Linked DNA regions of Homo sapiens. The protein of the gene in region 1 interacts with the protein of each later gene in a pairwise test. Each region holds a gene or a part of one and is shown on either strand. Other genes may lie near its edges. The genes, in order: CLEC7A, OPRM1, SUSD3 and BNIP3.

Region 1 (7,790 bases):
TTAACAGGTTTTGGGGAGCAGGTGGTGTTTGGTTACATGGATAAGTTTTTTAGTGGTGATTTCTTATATTTTTGTTGCACCCATCACCTGAGCAGTGTACACTGTACCCAATGTGTAATCTTTTATCTCTCACCCACCTCCCGCCCTTCCCTCCAAGTCCCCAAAATCCATTGTATCATTCCTATGTCTTTGTATTTTCATAGCTTAGCTCTCACTTATAAGTGAGAACATACAATGTTTTGTTTTCCATTCCTGAGACTCAGCTATTATGAATTCGGTTCTTTCAGCTATTTTATTGATGTAATATTCAATCTACCTCTGGGTTTCATTAATTACAATTTTAGTTTATAAAATGTGTTTTCCACTTCTAAGAACTCTTCTCAGATTGCTCATTTTTCTTTTTTCTCTTTCTTTCTTTTCTTTTTTTTTTTTTTTGACAGAGTTTTTGCTCTTGTTGCCCAGGCTGGAGTGCAGTGGCACGATCTTGGCTTACTCTTGGCTCACTGAAGCCTCTGCCTCCTGGGTTCAAGCAATTCTCCTGCCTCAGCCTCCCAAGTGGCTGAGATTACAGGCATGCGCCTCCACGCCTGGCTAATTTTGTATTTTTAGTAGAGACGAGGTTTCTCCATGTTTGTCAGGCTGGTCTCGAACTCCTGACCTCAGGTGATCTGCCTGTCTCTGCCTCCCAAAGTGCTGGGATTACAGGCATGAGCCATTGCACCCGGCCAGATTGCTCATTTTTCTTGGATGACCCACTTGTTTTATAGATGAAAGTTTTCAACAAACTTCACTGAAAATGTAAGTTAGATAACTGGTTTGTTTTTTGTCTTTTCTTTTGTTAGGTTGGTTTGTTTCCACCTGTTTCTTTCCTTTTTTTTTTTTTTTTTTTTTAGATGGAGTTTCACTGTTGTTGCCCAGGTTGGGGTGCAGTGGCACGATCTTGGCTCACTACAACTTCCACCTCCTGGGTTCAAGTGATTCTCCTGTCTCAGCCTCCTAAATAGCTGGGATTAAAGGCACCTGCCACCCCACCCAGCTAATTTTTTATATTTTTAGTAGAGATGGGGTTCCATCATGTTTGCCAGACTGATCTCAAACTGCTGACCTCAGGTGATCCACCTGCCTCAGCCTCCCAAAGTGTAGGAATTACAGGCCTGAGCCACCATGCTCGGCCTTCCACCTGTTTCTTGCATTAACATTTAATGAGGGGTATTTTTCTCTGAATACCCAGCCTATCTCTCCCACTGTCTTGAAATACGAAGGGTATTGTTTTTCTAGTTTGTCAATGATTTGCATAATTAATGTTTAATTGCTTTATTTTAGACAAAGAGACAAAAAAGGAGAATAATGAGAATTAGACTAAAGTTTATGTTTATTGAAAAATTTCTTTGACCACTTAGAGAGTTAACTGTTTTCATAGGATTGTGATTAAACACAGGGTGACAGTCAAAGTCACTATAGGGAAAAACTCTCCCACTGGAGGTCTGATTTGATAGTAAAGACAGCTTCTTATTACTGACTGCAAGGTACTCCCCTCATTATTGTTCTCTAGTTCTCTATTTCTATTTAAGAGGTCGACCCTTTTTCCTGGAGCCAATGTATTCACTGTTTGAGAAATTCCATGGTATCCCTTTGTAGGGGTGAAAGATTCCTTTTCCTCACTCATTGCTAGGTTCACGGCATCTACAATAAAACATAGATCAACAAGAGAATAGCATCCAAATTTATTTAATAGAAGTTACCTGAACAAACAGGCCTTGTTAAGTTCTACTCAGCTTATTACCATTAGATTATACCCTTTTGTTCTCCAGTCATACTTCTGCATAACTGTCCGTAGAAATACTCAGTTTTCCCTGCGTCTTCATTTCAGAAGGCTCTCTTGTCGTATAACATTTACATGCTTTTGTTTTGTTAATCTGTCTTTTGTTATAGGGGTCTCAGTCACGAACCTGGTGATGGGCAAGGAAAAGATACTACTTTTTCTCCCCTACGTTGGACAAGGAGGGTATGATCTAATGCTAATAAACTGGAGGGAGCTTAGCAAGACTAATTTGTTCAGATTCTTCTTGGCATCTCTGTATCTTCAAAGATAAGGAAGTTTCTTTCCTCTAGGAAACAATACTTCTAAAATAAGGGTCTTATGATCTGCTTCAGGGCAGAAAGACGGGGAAAGGTGTGAGAGTGAATTTCCTGATTCTGCTGTTTTCTCAAATGCCAAGAATCCATATTTTGGGGTTGCATGTCCTGAACCTCATACGCTGCTTTCCAAGCACTGCATTATAGGACTGAAACACTGATGAATGTTGAGATTAAGATCCACATTACCACTTTGCAACATGTCTACAAAAACTTAGTAAAACTTTTGTGGCAGCTTAAGTAAGGCGGGAAGCTCATTTATGTACTCTCTTGAGCTCTCTTCCATTTTGATAGGTGTTAGACTGTCAGAACTGCAGAGCCCTCATCATATAACAACTCCTCCCAAATCTCTGCACTAGAGACTTGGCAAACTCTAGCACGCCTTCTAGTAGCCTAAGGCAAGGTCCATAGGATGATTCAGCACTACTTAAAAGGCCAGCCTGAGGAAGCCCAATGCTGCTAGGAGAATTTACTTTTTGTTCCAGTTAAAACTTGTTAACAGGCCAGGTGTGGTGGCTCATGCGTGTAATCCCAGCACCTTGGGAGGCCGAGGCGGGCGGATCACGAGGTCAGGAGATCGAGACCATTCTGGTTAACACGATGAAACCCTGTCTCTACTAAAAATACAAAAAATTAGCCAGGCATGGTGGCGGGCGCCTGTAGTCCCAGCTACTTGGGAGGCTGAGGCAGGAGAATGGCGTGAACCCAGGAGGCAGAGCTTGCAGTGAGCCGAAATCGCGCCACTGCACTCCAGCGTGGGCAACAGAGCGAGACTCTGTCTCAAAACAACAACAACAACAAAAAACTTGGTAACAGATAGGCTCCTGAATTCCTTTTAGAGCAGTTACTTTAGAAATCTTACAGTTAGGCCAGGTGCAGTGGCTCACGCCTGTAATCCCAGCACTTTGGGAGGCCGAGGCAGGCGGATCACCAGAGGTCAGGGGTTCAAGACCAGCCTGACCAACATGGAGAAATGCTGTCTCTACTAAAAATACAAAATTAGCCTGGCGTGGTGGCACATGCCTGTAATCCCAGCTTACTCAGGAGGCTGAGGCAGGAGAATCGCTTGAACCCGGGAGGCGGAGGTTGTGGTGAGCCGAGATCGTGCCATTTGCACACCAGCCTGGGCAACAAGAGCGAAATTTCGTCTAAAAAAAAAAAAAGAAAGAAAAGAAAAATAAATCTTACAGTTAAATTCTTTCTCTGCCCTTTGAGAAGCAAATCTACCACACAGAACTGTTTCTTCAAGGACTTGGGAGCTGTTTCTTTGAAATGCAAACATTCAGGGAGATAAATCTTGCTCTTTCTTTCAGATGCAGCATAAGGACCAACTTAGCTGGGTGCTTCACTTCAACTATCACCATGTCCTTCTGTCATATAGATAGGCAAAGTTTCTCTGTCCTCTGGATAAGGGCCAATTAACAAATCCAGAGAGTCTAGTCACATTAACTTTCCTTAACACCACTCAGTATCTTTTCCTTAGCAAACTCCACTTTAAAATGTCATCAGCTTTACTTTTGGGGAAGTTGAGTTCAGTTAATGCTGCACTGGTTCCTGTTGCAATAGTATTACTGAATAAAACCTGTCCTCACCACATTAACTAGTATCCAGATTTGTTGATCCTTGACAACACTCAGATGTCTCCTGCACTCTACTGGCTTCAAGGTCGGATAAATGAGTTGAACACCTCTTCAGTTTCCAGCAATGTTAGGTGTTTTCTATATTTCTTTGATTTGATCATTACTATGGAAACTGGAAGAGAGGGAAAAAAAATCAAACATCTAACATAATATTTCAGTCCCAACACCTTCCATAAGCTGTTCCTTGCAATATAAGTGTATGGAATGATGAAAGAGGCAGTGTAGCGTAACAGAAAAGACCACGAGTTTTGCAGCAAGAGTCAGCTTTGATTTGATTCCTTGCTCTAAATTTTTAAAATTAGCTTCTTAAACCTGAGAAAGAGGCTAAATTTTCTGTCTCATTTTTTCATTTGAAAATAGAAATAATAATGCCTACTATATAGACTTGGAAAAGTGAGATTGAACAAGAAAATATGTACAACATGTGGTACTTAGCTCATAGTAATTGTTCAATAAATGTTATTTTGTGTTAATATCTGATAATTCCCAAAGAGATTTGTTTTCTCTGTCTGTTGTTACAACAATGCATCTCCTCATGCCATCCCTCATTTACCTATCTATATATTTCCTTTATTAAGCAATGAGTTTCTTCATAGGTATCATTTTTCCTTGTATTGTAAGCTCCTACCAATTGAAAAGGTGGGCATCCAGTACCTGTTTATGTAATTTAAAAAATACATGAATAAATACATGAACAAAGTTATGGTAAACTTGGAGCACCAAAACTGAAATAGTTTGCATCGGTTAAATTAATTAATGTCAGACTTAGTTGTGAGAGTAATGAAGGCAGCATAAGACATTAATGTATGCATTTTTCTTACATTTGGTCTGAAACAAAGACTCATCTGCTATGCTGCCTTTTAGTTTTCCTGAGTCAGCAGTCTCAGAAACAGGATCTAAAGGTACAAATGGAAAATTACCACAGCATAGTTTCATTTCCTGCTCTTGAATATCTGGTTGAACTACTTAAGCTTAATTTGTTAAACTCCGGTAAGTACCTAGCCCACATGATTTGACTCAGAGATTCTCTTTTGTCCACAGACAGTCATCTCAGGAGCAGAAAGAAAAGAGCTCCCAAATGCTATATCTATTCAGGGGCTCTCAAGAACAATGGAATATCATCCTGATTTAGAAAATTTGGATGAAGATGGATATACTCAATTACACTTCGACTCTCAAAGCAATACCAGGATAGCTGTTGTTTCAGAGAAAGGTATATATATGTTTTTTCTAATGTGTGCCTTTAGCTCTCCCGTTTGAAAAGATATAAGGGGAGGCTAGGCATGGTGGCTCACACCTGTAATCCCAGCACTTTGGGAGGCCGAGGCGGGTGGATTGACTGAGGTCAGGAGTTCGAGGCCAGCTTGGCTAACGTGGTGAAACTCTGTCTCTACTAAAAATACAAAAATTAGCCGGGCATGGTGGTGCACGCCTGTAGTTCCAGGTACTTGGGAGGCTGAGGCAGGAGAATCACTTGAACCTGGGAGGTGGAGGTTGCAGTGAGCCAAGATCATGCCAATGCACTCCAGCCTGGGTGGCAGAGCAAGACTCCATCTCTGAAAAAAAATAAAAATAAAAACAAAACAAAAAGATATAAGGGGAGAAAATTTGAGAGCCTCGTGATGTGTATATTTTTATGGATATACTTTTAAAGGCTTCAGATGTCACTGAAGATAAATTGAATGCACCCTAAACCTTTTTTCATGAAAATTATTCAGTGACCAATTATTAGTGTTTAAATTAATTATGTCTGATGGCAGAAAATAGAATTTCTCTTTTCTATAGATATAGACATTTCATCAGTGAGGAATTGGTAATAAGTGGGATAATACACAAAGATAAAGGATTTCTGTATGAGTGACTTGTTGCTTGTTTGATAGAAAGGCTAGATTATCGAATGGAGGCCAGGAAACTTAAAGAAGTATATATATGAACAACATTTTTTTTTTGTGGTAAGAGATTAATTTAAATTGTTTTTAAACAAAAAACAATTATTGGTATACCAGTGATGGAAAATATATGAACATATGGTAGATAAAAACATCCCACCAGCAGGACATGAGTCTTAAACAAAGTGTAAATGAAATGAAATAGAAAGAAGGGCATTGGAGGATCTCTGTATTCATAGAATGGGTGATTTAGCCTACTCTACGATTCTCCTATGTGACAATTCTATGAAATGTCCTGACAGCTTAGTCACAGTGGAAAGCAGAAATACATTCTGGTTATGGCAATGTTCATACAAAATTAGTTCCCTATTATCTTTGAGAGAGAGAGATCATTTGTCGGTTTTGACACCAGAGTTTGCTTTCTTCTGCTTTCTGGTTATTCACACTGCACAAATATTTTCCTCTCAGCACTGATGTAATTCTTTTCTTGGGCAACCTATTGAGGAAGCGTGGAAAAAGTGGATGAGGCAAGAGGTAGGGAGACATGCGCATGTTTATGCATATGTGTAGGCAAACGGTATCCTGCAACAACACACCTATCATGTGCTAGCAGTCTCTAAACAAGGTGCTTTTATATGTGTTAGCTCGTTTAATTCCCGCAATAATCCTTTGAGATATTATTACCCCAGTTTCACAAAGAGGAATAAAAAACAACAAAGGGAGTAATTTGCCCAGGGTCATGCAACAAACATATGAAAAGGGAAAATTACCCTTAGTAATCAGTGCTATCTCCCCAACATTAAGCTATTTCCTCTAAGAATCAGTGGGATTTCAGGGATCCTACTAATGTCAAGACCTGTAGATGTCAATGTGGAACTGAAATTAGGAGCATACAGTTATCAAGCCAATGTGCCGAAATTACAATTCCAGCAATTGAAGAAGAAGGTATCCTTACTGGTGGAGAAGCACAGCAAATCCTAGGTGACCAGGTAACCTAGGCAGTGATTAATAATTCACTTAAAAATTTGCCAGTATTTTTTGTTGTTGTTGTTGGTGGTGTGTGTGTGTGTGTGTGTGTGTGTGTGTGTGTGTGTGTTTTAACAGGGTATCACTTTTTTGCCTATGCTGCTCTGGAATTCCTAGGCTCAAGTGATCCTCCTGCCACAGCCTCCAGAGTAGCTGGGACTACGGGAGCTCACCACAATGCCCAGCTAATTAAATTTTTTTTCTTTCTTTGTTTTTCTTTTTTTTTTTTGGTAGGGACAGGGTCTCCCTGTGTTGCCCAGGCTGGTCTTGAGCTTCTGGCCTCAAGCAATCCTCCTACCTCAGTCTCCCTTCTGGGATTACAGGTGTGAGCCACCGTGCAAGGCCAGATTTTTGATGAACTGTAGAATTAAACTGCCCCACCATCCGTCATTCTCTTTCTTTATTCCATTTCTGCCCCCTCTGGCTCCTCAGGATCGTGTGCTGCATCTCCTCCTTGGCGCCTCATTGCTGTAATTTTGGGAATCCTATGCTTGGTAATACTGGTGATAGCTGTGGTCCTGGGTACCATGGGTGAGTATTTGGTGGAGGAGATTAACAACAGACAATTTAGTAAGCAATTATTATGTGCCAGGCACTCTTTTAAGGGCTTGACATGCATAATCTACTTTAATTTGTATATAATCTGGTTTTATCTGTATTGGGTTGGTGCTGTTAATGCCCATTTCACTTATAAAGGGTGTGAGAGACTGAGAGGTTATTTTACCTTTCCAGGGTTATAAGCTAGTTAGTGGTGGGACCATGATTAGAAATTTGGGTGATCTGTCTAAAAAACTCATACTCTTAACTACATTGCTCTCCTACCTCCCTTACATAGCTGGTTTCAAAGCTGTGGAATTCAAAGGATAAATTAATGAAGAAAACAAGCGGAGCTGAAGAAGAAAGTACAATATGGTGCTGTCTTCCTAATGAAATAAATTCACTAAATGGACATTAAGCTATTTTTATGATTCACATTATTTAAGGAAATTATTTCCGATCTTTAATATAAACACCTTTGAATACACCAGAAATTTCCTGAGGCACTTGGTCTTAAGTCGATATTTTGTAATGGATTAATATTTTTTTTACATTTTATATC
Region 2 (7,028 bases), on another chromosome or scaffold:
GTGGAAGTTCTGCTTAGTGTCCCTAAGCCAAGAAGACTGTGATGTGGCTTATGAGGAAAGTACTTGTGTTACAGAAGCTTTGTTCAGGCATGATTTATAGTGCTGTTAACCATGAGTTCAACGTTAGTGAATCAGCTATATATTAAATAAAGCGTCTTTAAACAGAAACACACATAAAACAAGGTTACGAATGCATTAGCTGATGAAAATTTTATAATCAGAGGCTCACAGGAACCTGCCCTATATATCCCCTAGAAGCAAAGCTTCAGTACTCACGAATTCTGTAGTCATAATGACTTTATGGACCATAACTATCATGAATAATGGGAATTGACTATATTAACTTTTTATGTTTTTACTTCTTCAAATTTTACTTTCTGAGTTTTTATTATAAGAGTAACCATATATTCCCTTTTTAAAGTTTGTAAACTCAGGAATATATGCATATATAGACATGTATGTGTTTGTATTTGAATTTATGATTTGCTAATATGTATCTATGGTACAGATCACTTTTCATGACTCAAGTGATAAAAGCTAAATATGCATGAACAAAGTGAATTGAGAAAATTATTTAAATTAGATTTTATACTTGAATAATTTGAGGTACATCTGAATTGCTAATAGCTTAGAATTGTACAGTATTTTGAAGATATTCAGTTCTGTTGGTCAACTTTGAATGTTGGATTTCTCACCTAAACACAAAGAGATAGATATAGTTCAAGTCTTTAAGTTTTATCAAGTGACATTTTATAAGGCCATGAGAAAATGCATAATTTTTTTTTAACAATGGTAGCATGTATTTTGGGTTATATTGCAGGGAAATTGGTTGTAGGAGTACTTTGGAGAGGCTGTAAGAAAGGATGGATTTAAGTTGATACTTGAAGAACAAGAAACATTTTGATAGGAAAAGAATGAGAGATACGTTACAGGAAAACAGAGAGAAAGAAAAATAAAGGAAACAGTATAGAAGAGATAAACATGAAGCATATTGGAAGATAGTGAAGGAATCAGGTTGGCCTAATTTACGTAAACGTTAATTTAAATCACACTAATGGTTTTCAGTGAATATGAGTGGTTAATATTTGAATCACTTAGGACACCTACTGTAAACTGAATGTGTTCCCCTCAAATTCACATGTTGAAAACCTATTCCCCAGTGTGATGGTATTTGGAGGTGGGGCCTTTGGGAGGTGATTAGGTCATGAGAGCAGAGCCATTATGAACACTATTAATGCCCTTATGAAAGAGGCCCTAGAGAGCTTCCTTGCCTCTTTGCCTTGTGGAGAAATGGGGAGAAGTTAGTTGTCTCTGCAAGAAGGTCCTCAGCAAATGCAGAATCTGCTGGTGCTTTCATCATGAACTCCTCAAGCCTCCAGCACTGTAAGAGTAAATTTCTGTAGTTTGTAAGCCACCCAGGCTATGGTACTTTGTTATAGCAGCCTGAACACACGAAGACACCTACTTACATACAGTGCATAAGCTAACATATTATTTAAAACAAACAAAAAACAAACAAACAAAAATTGTACTTAACAACATTTTTGCCTGGACAGACACATATCCAGAACAGAATGATCTCTCTCTCATTTAAACCCATCACACACTTCATCTTATGGGAAAGCCCTATCCATTGGTTTACGAAAGTTCACTTGATTAGATTTGGTGGAACCTCTTTGCATCAGATTTGGAATACAACATCCAGGATAGGACTAATACCTAAAGGCAAATATTAAAACCATCTCCTAAAAATTAAACAGAGAATGAGAGACAGAGAGAGAGAGAGAGAGAGAGAGAGAGAATTTTGCCCACGCTCCACCTTTGCCAGTCACGCTTTTAGGTTATGCGTTCCTAACCCTTAAGGAGGCAGCACATACTCTGACTCACTGTTTTTCATTCCTTGTCTTTCCCCATCTTGCACCCAGGCCCTCAGGTACACAAAACAGCAGGACCTTTTGCTTGGGCCTCCCAGTGCAGTAAGAAGATGACTTTTCCCTCTCCTTCCTGCATTTCTGCTCAAACATGTGATGCTCACCTGGTGGCTTCTGTGGGGTGGGGGTGGGGGGAATGAAACATGATGGGGTTGCACCTTTTCCCACTTAACCACTTGCCTGTACTCTCGAAGCATATGAATAAAGGCTTGACTGTAACTTTCTGTTTCCCTTATTGTCCTAATCATAAACACCACACCTGGCAGTTCAGAGCACACTCACTCTTTCTCCCTTTGACAGAACCTATTTGAGCTTATATAGAATCCAAAGGGCTGTGATGGAATGGCAACCACGATTGTTTAGTTTTGTGGATGATTCCTCTTTTCCTCCAGATTGTATTGCTGGGAAAAACATGCTCTTAATAGTCATTGAAGTTGCCATAGGACATTTTAGTACTAGAAAGCGTTTAAGATTTTTTTAGTCCAATTCGCACCTTTTTACAGATAAGGAGAGTGAGGCGCAGAGTGCCTTGAAGTCGAGCCACAACTGACACTTGGGGCCCTGAGCCAGGGCAAGGTTTCTCTTCCTTGCTGTTCTTCCTTTCTAAATTTGTATCTGAGAAATTGATGGGGAAAGAAAAAAAGTTACCTGAGGCAAGAAAGGATGGGTAAAGAAAGGAGTTGCTTGGTAAGCTCAGTATATGATGCTTGTTGTATATGACGTTTCCTGCATTTGATGCTTCAGCTCACTTTTGAAGACTGAAATTTTCTTGAGCTCAATTAATCACAAGATACTCTTAACGTTACTATATAACATGAAATTAATGGAAAAGGGAGTGGCAGGATTTTTTGTTTGTTTGTTTTCTTATACCCTCAGATAATTTGCCAGAAGGCACAGGAGGCTTTATTTCCTTTACATGGCACACACAATTCTGCTCCTATTATCCTGAGCTCAAGAAGAAGTAAACTGAACACTGGACATGACTGGTGCCCACTCTCTCTCCATTCAGCCAAACCTACCCAAAAAAGCCTTTCCTAAATCCCAAGGCAGGAACAAAAATGGAAGGAAAAGCTTAGCTTCTGAACTCTCTTGGTAGTTCTAACTGGTGCTGCCTATCAGAATTTTTCTTACGAGTTTTTGATAGTTAAGAGAAAACCTTTATTGATAGGTCTGTAAGAGCTCTATTTATTAAACAGATTTTACTGTGCTAACGTATAGTCACCAATTATAAAATAACAGGAAGGATATTCAGCAGAGTGTGAGATACGACCTTGTGTGAAGGTGAACCATTTTGAAAAGTGGTTGCTTGGCAAGGAGTGGGAAACTAGAAGAGTAAACCAGGGAAGAGGAAAACGAGGCATGTTTTTGAGACGGTCACAATGTGGGCGGGGCCTTCTGATGTGCCTTGTAGTTGGCACCTCAGAATTGTACACCTCAGGAGAGAGGGGAGCAAGGGCAGCATTTTTCCACAGGCTTCCATTTCCTGGTCAAGGGAACTTTCCTGAACTTCCAAATAGTGCCTTTGTGAGTGCCAGGCTGATTCCTATGGAGGGCAATTACTCCAGTAGAGAAGCCCTAGGGCAGAAAGTAAGTGATTTAGATGCAGCCAAGGTGAAGTGTTACTCAGTTATGTCTGGAAACTGACTGCCATATCAACGGCTGAGGTAGAAGGCGAGGTGAAGGACATGAGGTGGGCACGAGAAGGATATGAAACAACGTGAAAGCCATTGCTTTCAAATTTTGCCTGGTGGAGCCCTAGAAATTCTATGGTGGTCCCTTGGGGACAGCACTGGTGGGTGGCATGGGGGTGCAAGGTGAGCAGTGCTCTTGGTCTCAACATGTGGTTACATCTGGACAGTTGTTCTGTGATCTGTTTTATATATTGGGTCCCAAGTTCTTGAAATAAGTGTCTACATCTAAAAACAAGTTTGAAGACTGCTGTCACAGATAATTATTTCAGTCAGATAAACATTAAACTTAGTGAGGACTAAAGACTTGGAATTCTTGTATTTTAAAATGACATGCACCATTTAGTCTTGGTATTTACCCCTAGTACTTTTTTTTTTAATTTATTTTTTTTGTTTGAGTCGGAGTCCCACTGTGTTGCACAGGCTGGAGTGCAGTGGTGCGATCTCGGCTCGCTGCAGCCTTTGCCTCTGGGTACAAGAAATTCTTGTGCCTCAGCCTCCCCAGTAGTTGGGATTACAAGCATGCGCCACCCAGTCTGGCTAATTTTTTTTATTTTTAGTAGACACAGCATTTCACCATGTTGCCCAGACTGGTCTCAAACTCCTGACCTCAGGTGATCCACCTGCCTCAGCCTCCCAAAGCGCTGGCATTGTAAGTAAGAGCTACAGTGCCTGACCACCACTAGTACATTTTTAAATCTCATATAGTTGTATGTTATTTCTCAAAATGAGCTTATTTTTTCTTGCATCTGACCTTAAAATATCTGTTTCAACTACTGCCTTAAACGGAATCCTAGGAGAAATAATATTTTCAACTTTTATATGTAAGAGATCCTATTAGATGTTCAAAATCTCAAAGTAAATATTGTCAGCATTTATTATTTGAATACCTACAGACACCAATTAATTATTTGTATTTTCTTCTTAGCAGTAGAGAAATTATGCTTTATTTAAATTTATTAACCGATTTATTTTTTTTGCAGCAGTAGCTGAGGTTTTTTTCTGAGTATTATACCTAAATATTAATTAAAACAATTAGCTTAGAAAAATGCTTGCAAATAAATTTTTACAAATAATTTTTAACACATTTAAAAAAAAATAAGATCAGTTAAAAGTACTCAGAAGAGTTAATGGCCCGAATGTTTGTTTGTTTTCTTTTATGTTTGTTGGTTTTATTTGACATCTATTTTCTAGCATTGGCCTACTGGAACTATAACAACTTGGAGTAATTAGGGAAATTATGTGTTTAAGCTTAAACATATGATATGGTACCAATTATAAAAAGTTATGAGAACATACAAAAACATTTACTATGTATGTGTGTTTCCATATGTTTACTATATATATATGTGTTTCCATATGTAGTAAATGTTTAAAAACATGCATGTGAATAACTCACCACTAAATTTATGATAGTGGTAGTCTCAGTGACAGGAGGGTATTAGGAGCAGAGAAGAGACTTCAACTGTTTCAGTCTGTCTATCTCTCTCTCTCTCTCTCTATCTATCTATCCATCCATCCTTTAAGAGAAGAATTGTTCTGTAATTATATATTTTTTATCTTTGGAGATGTTTCATAAAATATCAGATAGGTCATTCTTTCAAGAAAGAAAAGAGAGAGAGAAGAATATAGGAAACTCGTTGATTGGTAATGTCATGCAAATGACAAAGACACAGCTTACAACCAAGGAAAGGAAAAGCAATTTAGTGTGTTTAGAAGACACAGAAGAAGAGTTGTTCTCCTCTGAATTAGTTTCTATATGGAAAATAGCACTTAAAGTTCAAATTGTAATAGGTACCAGGAGCTCTCCCTTACTAAGTGAAAGGCATGCAATTAAGTTAGTATTTTTTAATGTAAGCCATTAAATTGAGAACTGAATTTTATTTAGTGTTTTTCACTTTAAATCCATCCTCTAATTAGGATATTTTGTGGGTTTTAGAAAAGTGAATTTTATTAATATTTGAGTAAATAAACTATTATCTTTTTATTTTATGAAAATTACTAATGATCATATTTAGTGACATGCATTCAAATTGATTCAAATATGTATGTGTGTGTGTGAATTTATATATATATATATATACACACACACACATATATATCCTTATATTAGATAAAACATTATTGTTCACTAATTTGTAGCTACCTGAATCTAGATTAAGTTTAAAAGCTTATACTTCTGTTTCAATCAAGTATAACTGATCATTTTTAAATTTAAACCTGAATCAAATATTTAGTATATAGAACAAGTATAAGCTCACAGGACTTTTTCTAAAATCAGAAATACTTGTTAGGAAGGAGAAATGACAATAACATCTTGCACGTATTTAAATGCTCTTCTCTGATAATTAGTTATATTGAGAATTTATCTAACCACATTAAGAAATAATCTTAAAAATGAAGGTACTATTACTTGGCACTCTTCATTGGAAATTTACTGGAAGGATGGTTTACGCAGCCCACAGAAATCTCAAAGTTTCTAGCCCTCCACTTTTCAACAGTGTCTGTACATACCATGTTCATAGCTACATGAACAAACCTTGGAAAAAGAATTTCCCAACATAAACACATCTGGGATTATATTAGTTTTTGCAGTTATGGGTAATTCTATAGTCTGGTTCAGTTATTAAATATTTTCCCAAAAGTGAAACATCTCTGGTGGCTGTTACTTTTTGTTTTGATTTTTTTTCTTTACAGTTCTTGACAATGAAATACTATCATCCCATTTTAAGTGATTGCTACTGTTTGTAGTATTTTCATCACATTTTCTAAAATCTTTGTGATAATTTTCATAAGGTTATTCTCCAAGCATTATTTTTCTTTAAAACCAAAAAAGCTTTCAGGTGATGGTTACTGATAACATTTTTATCACTTAACATCTGGACTTAAAATCTTTAGAACATATTACAGTTTCTCCTTTCCTCCCTTGTATTCCTTAGAGTAGCCCTGTTTAAGAATCTCATTTAAGTTATACTACTTAATAATGTTGTTGATGAGGGGATGATGATGATGGTGTTACAAACAGAACCAAAGAGTTAATCACAGCGTCCATGTTAGCAGTTATTTTTGTTGTTGTTGTTGCCATAGTCATCTGAGCCTCATGATTCACTCAATGTACTAAAACATTTTAATAAATATTACCTTAATATAATCAGAAAACTGCAACTACTTGATCATTCAATAGCATTTGTTGAATTTTAAATAGGGAAGGAAGTGAACATTTCTCCTCAATACTTAATAGATGCAACATTATATCCAGCATTTTAGCAAGGACAATACATCCCTGAACTGATCATTTTGTAGTTTAAACACCGCAGCCTGGAGACAGTCAGTTAAATGTTCTCAGCTAAATAGACATACTTGCTTCAGTCCCCAGATGCTTTCCCTGTCGCTTCATCTGTCACTAACT
Region 3 (7,924 bases), on another chromosome or scaffold:
CTATCTGCCAGCCCAGTGGTGGCCAGGTAAAGGCCTTGGTGTGCAGGATGAGCATGGGGGGAGCAGCCCCTGGCCAGAGTTTGTCCCTCCTAGGCCCAGCTGTATCCCAGCTTCTAAACTGGCCTGGCATGCAGTAGGTGTTTGGTAGTAGCTGTTCCATGAATCTGTCATTCCTTCTGCCCTCTGGGCGCCTTGCTTTGTGTCTCTGCATCACCATTTCTGAACCTGAGGGCGGCAGCTCGATGTCATGTCACCCAGGCTGACTGATCTGCTTGTGCAGGCTGCAGCCAGGTAGGACAGTCTGGTGGTCACAGCTCAGGCCCCAGCAGGGGAGTACCCCCGGGGAGGGGCCTTTGTCGCTCTGCACAGTGGGGACAGGGCTCTTGCCTTGCTTTAGGAGGATAAGTGGTGGGTGTTGAGGGCTCCAGATGGCCCAGCAGAAAACATTTTTGGGAAAATTGTTTTCTCTGCAAACATCTGGCCTGCTAGAGCTTCAAGGTCAGGTTACTTTTTTTTTTTCTTTTTTTGCTTTTAGTTTTTAAAAGGTAATACAGTTTTTAAAAAGAGAGGACACCCATGAGGCCACCAATGCTTCCCTGACTCTTACCTTTTGCAAAAGAACTTTCTGGACGTGGTCTATTGTGAGAGGTTTTCAGAACAAAAATCTCATTTTTCTATTGAGTAAAAACTAAAATCAAGAATAAAGCAAAACAGGCTGGGCGCAGTGGCTCACACTTGTAATCCCAGCACTTTGAGAGGCCAGGGAGGGTGCATCACCTGAGGTCAGGAGCTCAAGACCACTCTGACCAACATGGTGAAACCCTGTTTCTACTAAAAATACAAAAATTAACTGGGCGTGGTGGTGCATGCCTGTAATCCCAGCTACTTGGAAGTCTGAGGCAGGAGAATTGCATGTACCCAGGAGGTGGAGGTTGCAGTGAGCTGAACTCATGCCACTGCAATCCAGCCTGGGTGACAGAGCAAGACTTTGTCAAAAAAAAAAAAAAAAGGCAAAACAAACTGTTTTAGATTTCCACAATTATTATCTAATTTTAGAAAAACTCACCAAGCCAAGAACTCTGCCACCACCAGACTTCTGCATGGGTCCCCTCCCAGGCCACCATGGCCCATGGGTGCTGAGTCAGGCAAATCAAGGGTTGAGGAAGGCTTCCTGGGGGTGGCAACACCTCAGCTAAGGTCTGAGGAAAGAGGAAACTCCCAAGCCAGACCCTCACCTTCCTCTGGAAACCTCTGGCAGCGCACAAGACCCCCATGTTACAGAGTGGAACACTGAGCCCCAGGGCTGGCAGGCCTCCCCTGCCTCCCAGGTTCCATCCAACAAGTGTCCACTGACAGTGCACTGTGTGCTCCCAGTTGCAAATGGAGCTGGGAAGAGGCTGTGGCTTTGGTCAGTTCCTCAGGCTGTGCCTGACTCTGCTTCCTTCTCCCGGCCTGCCTCACCAGCAGCCAGCAGCCCATCCGTTCCTCCTAGCCTCCTCCCCTGCCTCCTCCAGCAGGGAAGCCCATATGTTTTGCGTTTTTTTTTTTTTTTTTTTTTTTTTTGAGACACAGTTTCCCTTTGTCACCCAGGCTGGAGTGCAGTGGTGCAATCTCAGATCACTGCAACCTCCGCCTCCTAGGTTCAAGCAATTCTCGTGCCTCGGCCTCCCAAGTAGCTGGGATTACAGGTGTGTCTGACCTCAAGTGATCCTCTCGGCCATATCCGGCCACATGTCCATAGCTCCACACCTGGCCACATGTCCTCTTCATTTCAGAGACGTGACACAGGCTGAGCAGGCCTTAAGGACAGGCAGCACGAAATGGCTCTGACAGGGAGTGCCATCAGGGAGGGCTCCATGGAGAAGGAGGGTGAGGAAGGCAAGGAGACACACCCAAGCAGGCAGAGCCTAAGCACTGCTCCCAGTTTGTGCCTAGACTTGGAGAGTCTGGGAAACCAGGCAACTAGGACAGCTGAGCGGGTGGGCCAAGCTCAAAAGCTGACGGGCCTTCACAGTCCAGCTTAGAGGCCACCACTCCATCCTGAGCACATCACAGTCTCTCACTTGCCTTGAGAGGGTGGCAGGACAATGTCCACCCCTCAGATGAGAACACGAAGACTCAGTGCAAGGGTGCCCACCCCTGCCCCAGGGATCAGGGAAGCCTGTCAGAGAGCCATGGTTCTCACCATGGAAGGGGGCACCCCAGGCGGTTGTCCCTAGTGGGCCAGTGCCGTTCTTTTCACATGCCTCAGTTTCGCCCACGTGCATGGCTAGAATAGCTGGGCTTTCTAGGAGCAAACCATTCCAAGGGCCTGGGAAAAGGTGGACAAGATGGCCCTGATCAGTGTTCAAATAGGTGACAGGCCCACCTCCAGAACCAGCCTCAGATCCCTCCCATAGCTCCTGAAGATGGCCTTTTGGCAGCAAATGGGTGTTCTGAGCCACAGCAAGGCATACAGTTCCCTGTGGAAACGACATGACAGAGGTCCTTAGGCCACCTCCAGGTCCCCTAACAGTACAAATGGAGGCCCAGCGCCACAAGCCTGAATGTCCACAACCCAACCAAGCGACAGACTGCTCAGAAAAACATGCTCTTTCCTCCTTGATCCCACCTGTCAGGGGCTGAACTGTGTCCCCCAAAATCTATATGTTTAAGTCCTAACCCTCAGTACCTCCAAATATGACCTTATTTGGAGACAAGGTCTTTACAGACTCTTCTTTTTTTTTTTTTTTTTCTTGAGATGGTGTCTTGCTCTGTTGCCCAGGCTGGAGTGCAGTGGCACAATCTCAGCTCACCACAACCTCCGCCTCCCGGGTTCAAGTGATTCTCCTGCCTCAGCTTCCCAAGTAACTGGGACTACAGGCACGCGCCACCATGCCCAGCTAATTTTTGTATTTTTAGTAGAGACAGGGTTTCACCATGTTGGCCAGGCTGGTCGCAAACTCCTGACCTTATGATCCACCTGCCTCTGCCTCCCAATGTGCTGGGATTACAGGCGTGAGCCACTGAGCCTGGCCGGTCTTTACAGACTCTTTATAGGGTCTTAAGTTAAGATGAGGACATTACGGTGGGCTCTAATCTAATATGACTGGTGTCCTTAGAAGAGAGATTTGAACACAGAGAGACACAGGGAGAGCACCATGTGTAGACAGGAGTTAAGTTGCCACCGGCCAAGGAACTGCCAGAAGCTGGATGATACAAGGAAGGCTGTTCTCCTGGAGTTTTTGGAGGGACTGCAGGCCTGCCGACACCCTGATCTCAGACTTCTGGCCTCCTGAACCATAAGACAATAAATTTCTGTTGTTCTCAGGCACCCAGTCTGGGGTACTATGTTACACAGCTCTAGGAAACACACTTCCTAAATGGCCAGGTGTTTAGCATTTGAAGGCTCCTGAAGGCCTGGGTCACAGCGTGGTGGCTTAGGGAGCTGCAGGCAGCCTGGTGTTTTCCATCCCCACCTAGCTCCACCCAGCTATTGGAGGGCTGCCCCAGACCTCCCTCCCAGCCCTGTCCATGCACCTACAGGCAGTGGCCTTCTGCCTGGTGGTGCATGGTGGGCAAAACCAGGGAAGGGACCACACAGGCCTGAGAGGTGGGCTAGGGGCCACTTGGCAAGACATTCTGGGGTCCCAGAGTGTGGTCTGGAGTGGGCACTGCTGATGGCCCTGCCCTTCCCGACATGGCAGAAAGAATACACATGCTTGATTTTGAATAAAGGAGATTGAAGTAAGCCATCGTGTGTGACCCACAAGTCCAAGTGGGAAGAACATATCAGGGGTGACGCCAACCCTGATGGCGAAAGGGGGAGGGCCCCTCACGTTTCACACTGAACCTCAGCTTTGGAGGGCTCGGAAAGCAGAGACGGGGAGGGGCTGCCCTGCTGGAACCCTGCTTCATGGTCCACCTGAACATCCACACTCTTCACGGTCACCTGCCAGGCACTCTAGAGCCAGCCTGGCCCACCTGGGCCACCTTCTGCGCTCCTGGAGGCATGCCTAAGCCAGCCGCACTGGGCTTCTGCTGCCACACATTGCCAAACCAGGGCCTTTGCACCTGCTGTTCCCTCTGCCAGGATTGCCTTTGCCAGCTCCACAGGAATAGGCATGGCTCAGGTGGTCTCCCACAAGCAGCCCAAGATCCAGGATGTCTGAGGCCTGACACCACACCCAACCCTTTGGTGGCTGCCTGGGCAGGGGGCTAAGCCTGGGTTGGGTGGGGTCAGAGGGAGAGAAAGAGCCCGGATCACAGCTCTGGGCCTGCTGCAAGTGGAGCTGGGTGGGAAGGGGAAGCCAGGAGAAGGGAGGCCTCCAGGTGTGGTGGGCCCTGCAGACAGACCCCAGGGCTTTCCATCCTGTTTCCCCCAGCCGGGGGCCCCTCAGTGAGAACCGAAGACAACAAGGGCACCCAGACCTCAGTGTGCCTCAGACGGCCTGGCCCAGTGAGAGACAGGGAAAGAAGGCTGGGTCCACACAGGACTCTGGGGGTGAGTGGGTTACGGGAGGGGCGGGCCGGGGAGGCGTTTTGCTGTTTGCCCTTTGGTACCGGCCGAATCCGGCACCCTGAGAAGGCAAAATCCTGCTCAAAAAATAAAAACACAGAAGCACATGGAAAAACCACACTAGGAGTGAAGGTGAGAACAGGAAGGGATGGGGGAAGGGTGTTGGGCAGAGGTAGCCACGCGTGCAACGCCCCGGAGTAGCAACACTTTCCGCTCAGCCGGCTGCCTTGGCCCGCTGGGTATTTGGTCTCCCCAAGGGCCCCCGCCCACAGCCCCCGGCCGGACCTCGGCCCCAGTCCAACGTGTGGGCGTGGTCTGTAAGTTGCATGGAACCGCCCCTGGGCGGGCGTGGAGGGCGGGGCCTCCCCGCCCCTCACCCAGGCCCAGGCCCAGGCCCCGCCCCCACAAGCCGGGCTCACTCCCCTGGCAGACCCCGCCAAGCGCCTCGGAGCGCGCAGGATGCGCTGGGCGGCCGCCACCCTCCGTGGCAAGGCGAGGCCCCGGGGGCGGGCCGGGGTCACCACGCCTGCCCCAGGGAACCGCACAGGTGAGGGCTGGGGCCGAGTGGCCGCGTGCGGGGCTCTGCGCCCATTTCACAGACGGGAAAGCCGAGGGGAGGGGGTCGCGGGGCCGCACAGCCGTGGGTGGGGGCCACAGCAACGATCTGCCCCGAGGACGAACCTCCTCGACCCTCCGCCGGCCCAGCAGGCGCCCTAGCGGAGCCGAAGCCTGGCAGCGAGCAGTTCGAAACCAGGCGGCTGCACGCAGCAGCCCGCGCGCCCGTTCCCGAGTGGCCGCAGCGCCTTGGTCCCGGGCGTCTGCGGACAGCGCGGCCGGCCAAGCCTCTCCACGCCGCAGGCTCCGGGCCCCTCCGCGCCCCTCCCGGGGAAGTCGAAACCGGCCTCACCTGGCGGGCGGGTGGCGCGGGGGCGGGAGGGGGGAGCCGGGAGCCCTCTCTGCGCCTGAGGGAGGTGTCATCTTCACGATTCCTTGGTGACCAGCGCAGCTCCACTTTACAGATGGAGAAACTGAGCCTGCGAGAGGGGAGTGGCTGTCCGAGGTCACCCTGTAGCCAGGCTTGGGATCGCCTCGGCTGTCTCGGAGGAGGCTCAGAGGCCTTTGGAAGGAAGAGAAGCTGCTTTTTATTTTACTTTTAAGTGTTTGAATTCAAGAATGTGCTTAAAGAGTTGTCTGCTCCCGTGCCCAAGGCTCCGGGGTTCGAATGCTGGCCTTGCTCCTTGAATGATTCTAAAGTCTAACCCTTTTAGAAACGGAACCAAACCGGAACTCTGGGTCTCAGATATCCCAAAAGCTTACTTCCGCGGCCACTGCCCACGAACGTTAGGCCTGAGGGTTCTGGGCGTCTCAGGCGTTGCGGGGCTAAGGCTCTGCGCAGGAGGAAGCTGAGGCCCGGAGTGGGGTGGGCTGGACCAGGTCACACTGTCAGCCTGCAGCCCCAGGGAACTGGCAGGAAGGTGGCAGGAGAATGGCTTCCTCTCACAGTTGGGGAAACTGCGGCTCAGGGAGCTAATTCACCGAGCAGAGGTCCGCAGCTCAGCAAAGTGGGCGCTGAGACTTGTTCCTGGCGCTGGTGGATTTGGTTTATTTAGTTTGACTCTGGCAGCCTAATGTCCAGAGTCCCTAATTTGGTGTTGGGGTGATGAGCACTTTTGCTCCTGTGTTTGAGCAAGGCCTGCCCAGGGCCTGGTACTACCTGAGGAGCCCCTTCTACTGGCACAACAGCCTGGGGGCGTGGGTGCCAGTGCCCTTTGGATAGCCTTGACTTGCCCAAGGTCAGCCCAAGGCCAGGGAGTATCTGGAGGCTCTGGCATATTTGCATACAAAAGGCTGTTTGCCTTGGAATTTGTGCTGGGAATGGAGCTTAGTCTGGCACCCTGTGCTCTTGTTCATCCTGCCTGGCCCTGGCTCTGCCTCTGACCACCATGACCACTTCCCAGGCACTGGCCCCCTTGTTGGAGTTTTGGGTTAGGATCCCCCCTGTGACCTGGGGTGAGTCGCTGTACCTCTGTGCCTCAGTTTCCCCATGTGCCCCAGTTTCCCCACTGTATACCTGCCCCCAAGCTTGTGGACAGGCCCAGTGGAGCCCAGGGAGGGTACTTGTTCTGGTGCAGGGATGATGCCATCATCTGGACTCCATCACTCCCCTGCCATGTGACCTCAGTTTCTTGCTCTGTGAAATGTGCTGTGAAGTTAGAGGCTGGGGGGTTGGGAGCCTTTGGAGAGGATTTGACACTAAAACACCACTGACCAGGAGTGGTGGCTCATGCCTCTAATCCCACACTTTGGGAGGCTGAGGTGGGCGGATTGCTTGAGTCCAGGAGCTCGAAACCAACCTGGGTAACATAGCAAGACCCCGTATCTACAAAAAATGCAAAAAAAAAATTAGCTGAGCATGGTGGCATGCGCCTGTAGTCCCAGCTATTCGGGAGGCTGAAAGGTGGAAGGATTGCTTTCGTCCAGAGTTCGAGGCTACAGTGAGCTGTGATCACCTCACTGCACTCCACCCTGGGCAACAGAGCGAGATTCTGTCTCAAAACAAAACAAAAACCAAAAACATAGCACGGGGATGTGTGTTTTTCCCACCATCTTTAAAATGGGGCCATTACCACTGGTTTTCCTAGAGTAGATATGAAGAGCACAGTAGTGTGGACAGACTGATCTTCCTGAGAGGCAGGAAGTGGTCTTCCCTCATCTCCCATGAGCGCCCTGGGAGAAGGGCAGGGCGCGGGGGAGACTAGCTCAGAGTAGGAGTTTATCATGTTTGTTGTATGACTGGCCCCTGGCCCTGCTCCCAGGTCAGCCCCAGCACTCCCTGATCTGGGAGATTGTCCAGGAAAGCAGGGTTCCAGTGGCTGTAGGTAACCCCCCTGGCATCCGTGGAAGGGCCTTGGAGGAAGGGCCTGGAGAGGGGGTAGCAGGAGGCATGCTCTGCTGGTGCCTTCTTGGCTTCACCCCTGAACTCCTGCCCCAGAACTGGACTGTGTCCATTTTACAGAGGAGAAACTGAGACCCCGTGAATGCATGTGTAAATCAAAGCAAGGCAGACACACCCTGTGATGCCTGGCTATGGCCTCCTGCCACCCATTGGCATCGAAAGAGCTGCTGGTAGAAGGCATAGGTTCCCGGACCCTCGGTTTTCCACCAGGGATGTGGGAGTACATGTTCCTCATTTGGAATTAGCCCAGCTCTTTTATGGAGGATTGTGTGCTTTCCACATCCTGAGGCCACCCTGCTGCTCAGCCTGGAGATGGAAGGCAGAAGTGGCTCTGAAGCCTGTGCTCACCCTCCATGTGGAGATGGGCTCAGAGAGGGCAAGTGACTTACCTGAAGACACACAGCCAGGGCTGTGGGACACCCACATGTAGTGTTGGGGCCAGGCCTGTCCCCACTGCCAGGGTCTTGGGG
Region 4 (4,768 bases), on another chromosome or scaffold:
GTTTCACTCAGAGTTCAGCCATTGTCATCTGTGAGGGGGACACGTGGTTGGCTTTGTTGTGTGCTAACTTTGATGGTGACCAGGGGGTTCACTGAGCTCTGTAAGGTGCTGAAACTCCACTGATGTTTGTGATGAAAGACAAACAGCAAACATATTTGCTCTAAAACAAAAACGGAATTCCCTTGACCATCGTGCTTCGATGATCTCAGACTATTCTGAAGTTAAATTATATAAAGGAATTCTGATGTCATGCCATCCACATTCTCCAAATGTAAGACTGAGAGATGACTGCTTCCAAGGTAGCATCAACAAAGATTTTTACAAATGAAAACGTTAGATTTAACACCCGAATTAAGCGTGGAAAGGTGAAACATCAAGGCGGCAGGCAGCCTTTCTAAAAAGTTTGCTGTAGGAAAGATAATGTCAAAATAGGGACCAGTCCTGGTTTCATTAAGAAGCTATCATGACGTCTGATTTTAAACCATATGTAAATACAGTAATCTGAAGGATTTGGCAAAGATTTATTTTTTTTTCCATTTCCAGTTTTTTAAAGTAGACACAGATTTGCTTAGAATAAAGCTGATTTTAAAAGCACACAAAAGTTGAACACAAAGGAGAGGATTAAATTCACCAATGCAGAGTGATAAAGAGGAAAAGATACTGAGTAGGTGCCTTCAGCAGAAAACTGATCATCCAGGGTGATCACCTAATAATCGGAGACTTAATTCCTTATAATGCAAAAGCAAGAAGAGTTTAGTGTACGAACTGTACAGCTGAGTTTGTAGCTCTATCTTGGTTTCTGTTGATTATGAACAATTAGCATAGTTATATATAATCTTTCTTTAGTAGACAACCTGCATCCATTTAAATTAAATAATACTTTCTACAATAGTGTGATATATAAGGCCACAATATTTATTTTGGACAAACCCCTTAAAGTAGCGATTTTATTATCAATGTTATTCATTCTTTTGAAATATAAAGTACTTCAGCTGAATTAAGGTTGCAGATAATTTTTAAAATACAACACACATCATGACTAGTATATTAAAATTATTTATATTCAGATATTTATATCTAATATCAAATGAAAATTTACTACCAAATTTTCACAGTAGACATTAATCAGTCTGACATGCTTATTGATCCCATAGGTGTAATTATAGATCAACATGATTTTAGTGTCTATTCTTTTATTTTACTAAATTAGGAACGCAGCATTTACAGAACAAATAAACACAAGTGACGTGGCCACCCCAGGATCTAACAGCTCTTCAGTGAGCTATGTTGCAAGCTCAGAAGTAATCCACTAACGAACCAAGTCAGACTCCAGTTCTTCATCAAAAGGTGCTGGTGGAGGTTGTCAGACGCCTTCCAATATAGATCCTTCACAGAAAAATTATCAGTAGTTAATGTATCTTGTGATTCACAGGAGACTGTGTTACAGCTGAAACAGGGTAGCTCACTGTGGTTAGAGCTTATGCAAGGGGACTGGTGATTTTATACCCATTATAAAAATTTTGTAATGAATCTATCTGTGATCTTTTATCTAGTGTTTTATCAATATGTATTTTGTATTAATTAACTTAGAAAACATCAGATCGTATTCTTACATAGAAGGATCACCAAACCGAATGCTGTTTCCACACAGAAAGCTTCTGCTTTGTTCCAACTCAGTGCTGGGGGAAGTCACCTACCAGGGCAAGATGGTGTTGCTAGTTCATCACCACCAGCCTCACCAAAGCCAACTGCTTAAAAATGAAGCCCCTGCCCTCATGTGGTTTAAGTTTGGTAGTGGGAGAGATGTCCCAAACTAAAGATGCAGGAGTGTCAGAAAAGGCTTTTCGGCAATAGAGAGGCTCGCTCCAGCTGACCAGCGGGCATCACTCCCGGAGGGAGGAGGATGGGTCTCCAGGAAAGGGCAGAATCGGAAGCCTGGCTGGCCTGGCCTGTGGGCGGTGGTGTGGTGGGCACTGTGAGCGCAGACAGTGCTGCAGCAGCTTTCGGGGCAGATTTTATCGTGTGGTTCTGAAAAGCAGCTGAGGGGGTGTGGGTCGCCAGTGGCAGCATCAGGCTCTGAAAACCCGGGCAGGACGAAGGACAGTAGCTGGGAAGTAGTGGCTGCAGAAATCCATCCTGAAACGAAGGGCTTAAACCTTGTATTTAAAATGAGGATCCCGAGGCCTTGCCCCCAGAGTCTGCTTGACAGTTCTGGAAAAGGCTCCAGAAAGCAAACTGCCTGGTGATGCTGATGCAGTCTGTAGGTCTGACTCCCAAAAGCACCAGCAGAAATGAAGGTGACGGGTTATGGGGGGGACGTGAGAATGTGCCCAAGAGCTAGGAGAAAGCCACGCACACGGGAGGGCGAGGTGGAGACACGGGCAGCGCTCAGGTCCCGGCCCAGGAAACTCAGTGGCTTTTATCCCGTTTCCTTCAACCCCAGATGTGAGCCCTCTGGCCAACCTACCTAACCCACCTGCCCCCAGTGGCATTCCGGTCTTTCCAGTCTGTCCAACACACGGCAGCCACAGAACACTGTCTGCACGCCAGGACTAGAGCCCTCCTCCCCGCTGAGAGGCTGGGACCAGCCCGAGGAGGAGCCGTTTTGGCTTCCCGCTCTGGCTCTTCACCACCGCTGCGGCGAACGCTCTTCAGAACCCACAGCGGCGCCTGCCTGGTCTCTGTGTTTTCTGCAGGGTGAGTGAGTATAAGCAGCCAGGAAAGGCCAGGCGCGGTGGCTCACGCCTGTAATCCCAGCACTTTGGAGGCCGAGGTGAGCCATCCCTTGAGTTCGAGATCAGCCTGGGCAACGTGGCGAAGCCCCGTCTCTATTAAAAATACAAAAATTAGCCAGGCCTGGTGGTGGGCACCTGTAATCCCAGCTACCCAGGAGGCTGAGGCAGGAGAGTCGCTTGAACCCAGGAGGCAGAGGCTGCAGTGAGCCGAGATCACGCCCCTGCACTCAGCCTGGGCAACAAGAGCGAAACTCAAGCCAGTAAAGTCGGAGACTGCATTGGTTCCTTCATTGCTGAGAGTTACTAGAACAACAGTCCTGTCTGGAGGAAGTACAGCAGGTAACTGAGACCCTCCACCTACAGCAGAGCTGGGTGCATTCCCGCCACAGTACTACACAGAAATGAGACTGCTTTCACCTACACACAGGACAAAGAGGTCAGACCTAAGAAGCCCTGCTTTGACTCCGTTTATATTCAGTGAGCAACAGGCAGACTCGTCAGGCCAGACAGCAGCACCACAGGGCGCCTGTGCTGGGGCCTTTGGGGGCTGCAGGCTGGTGGTTTCTGGACCTGAACAGTGACTACGTGGGTGTTTGTGAAAATGCACCAAGCTGTAACTGATGATCTGGACTTCAGGAAACAGGTTACGAATAAATCACTGCAACCCAGAATCGCCCCACGACATGCCATGACAGGAGTCACACAGTCACATCACCTACCCCAATCCGATGGCCAGCAAATGAGAGAGCAGCAGAGATGGAAGGAAAACTTTCAGAAATTCTGCAGAGAATATGCCCCCTTTCTTCATGACGCTCGTGTTCCTCATGCTGAGGGTGGCCGTGCGCTTCGGGTGTTTAAAGAGGAACTCCCTGAGGCGGGAAGAAACGTGTCAGCTGATGTGTCCTCTGTCAAGGGGTGCCCCCGTGACACTGAGAACACACTCACTTGGGGGGAATATTTTCCGGCCGACTTGACCAATCCCATATCCAATCTGAGTTTTTCTTCAAGATGCTTTCAACTTCTTTCCTTCTTTCAATATCATCTTCCTCAGACTAAGATAAAGTCAATGTTAAAGGCAGATCAGTGTACCACACGTGACACGGGAAAGCACCCAGCTCCCACCCGAGCTTCAGATCCGCAGGCTCAATTCAAGAGCCCAGAGGCACATGTCAGTGCCTCGGACCGTGGTCCAAGGGGAGTCCTGGGGCTGGGGGCCTTCCCCGGGCCGCGCCGCACTCCCGGCTCACAGCACGCTCGCCGCCTCCAGGGACAGATCACCTCTGGGGGAGCCCCACTCAGGGCGTAAATACATTTGGTTCACTGTGAGATTCTGGGGGTACTGACAGCGGCAAACACTGTCCTAGGGAAGTCACGTGACATGAGGGCAAAGATGGTGACGGCAGCACTGGTTATAAGAAAAGAAAATGAAAACAGCCGAAAACGGCTCAAAACAGGGACATGACGAAGGAAGGGACACTGTATAGTGAGCAGGTTTACAAGATGCTTCCGGGATAAGCAGGAGGGAAAAGGCAGAAATGTCCACATAACCACAGCTGCGGCCAAATCCTCAGAATTATATAACAGCACGAAACATTAAAGAGGATTTTAAATCTGAGAGTCTAAGTGTTTTTCTCTACTTTTTTGCATTTTCAAAATTCTGTACCTGAACATCTAATTCCTTTTAAAACTAGGGGAAGTTTTGTGTAAAACAGTGAAAACGGCAAGACCCTGTCTCAAAAAAAAAGAAATAAAATTGAAAATACTCAAGAATATAGCTCCCCAAACCCACCAAACATCTGGGTACACCCAAGCTGGGTACAGCCCCAAGTGCCCAGGAGCAGGCCGCACGCCCTGGATGCACCCACACACCCACAGCCAGGGCTCCTGGGGCTCCCGAAATCATGCTGCCCCTCGGAGTGGGGCCAGGGGATGTCCCTGAGAAAGCCTGGGTAACAGGGACTCCTTGTTTCCTTGGTGAAGAAAGCCTTGAGGGAAGCGCTAGCACGGAAGGGTCAGCTACTAACCCTGCCTGG

What was found.
Region 2: the proteins of CLEC7A (region 1) and OPRM1 interact in binary tests that used the Homo sapiens proteins (3 or more experiments, as listed by UniProt).
Region 3: the proteins of CLEC7A (region 1) and SUSD3 interact in binary tests that used the Homo sapiens proteins (3 or more experiments, as listed by UniProt).
Region 4: the proteins of CLEC7A (region 1) and BNIP3 interact in binary tests that used the Homo sapiens proteins (3 or more experiments, as listed by UniProt).

Annotation. Positions count from the first base shown.
Region 1 is NC_000012.12:10,127,179-10,134,968, reverse strand, and holds the start of CLEC7A (C-type lectin domain family 7 member A), read left to right. Parts: upstream 1-4,769; 5' UTR 4,770-4,886; coding exon 4,887-4,989; intron 4,990-7,123; coding exon 7,124-7,222; intron 7,223-7,526; coding exon of another isoform or gene 7,527-7,558; exon of another isoform or gene 7,559-7,646; intron 7,647-7,790.
Region 2 is NC_000006.12:154,042,212-154,049,239, reverse strand, and holds part of OPRM1 (mu-type opioid receptor), read right to left. Parts: intron 1-7,028. UniProt on the Homo sapiens protein: Receptor for endogenous opioids such as beta-endorphin and endomorphin. Receptor for natural and synthetic opioids including morphine, heroin, DAMGO, fentanyl, etorphine, buprenorphin and methadone.
Region 3 is NC_000009.12:93,053,786-93,061,709, forward strand, and holds the start of SUSD3 (sushi domain-containing protein 3), read left to right. Parts: upstream 1-4,915; 5' UTR 4,916-4,957; coding exon 4,958-5,045; intron 5,046-7,924. UniProt on the Homo sapiens protein: May play a role in breast tumorigenesis by promoting estrogen-dependent cell proliferation, cell-cell interactions and migration.
Region 4 is NC_000010.11:131,967,184-131,971,951, forward strand, and holds the end of BNIP3 (BCL2/adenovirus E1B 19 kDa protein-interacting protein 3), read right to left. Parts: intron 4,351-4,768; exon of another isoform or gene 3,788-4,350; coding exon 3,681-3,787; exon of another isoform or gene 3,605-3,680; coding exon 3,455-3,604; exon of another isoform or gene 2,472-3,454; coding exon of another isoform or gene 2,444-2,471; intron 1,387-2,443; coding exon 1,341-1,386; 3' UTR 501-1,340; downstream 1-500. UniProt on the Homo sapiens protein: Apoptosis-inducing protein that can overcome BCL2 suppression. May play a role in repartitioning calcium between the two major intracellular calcium stores in association with BCL2.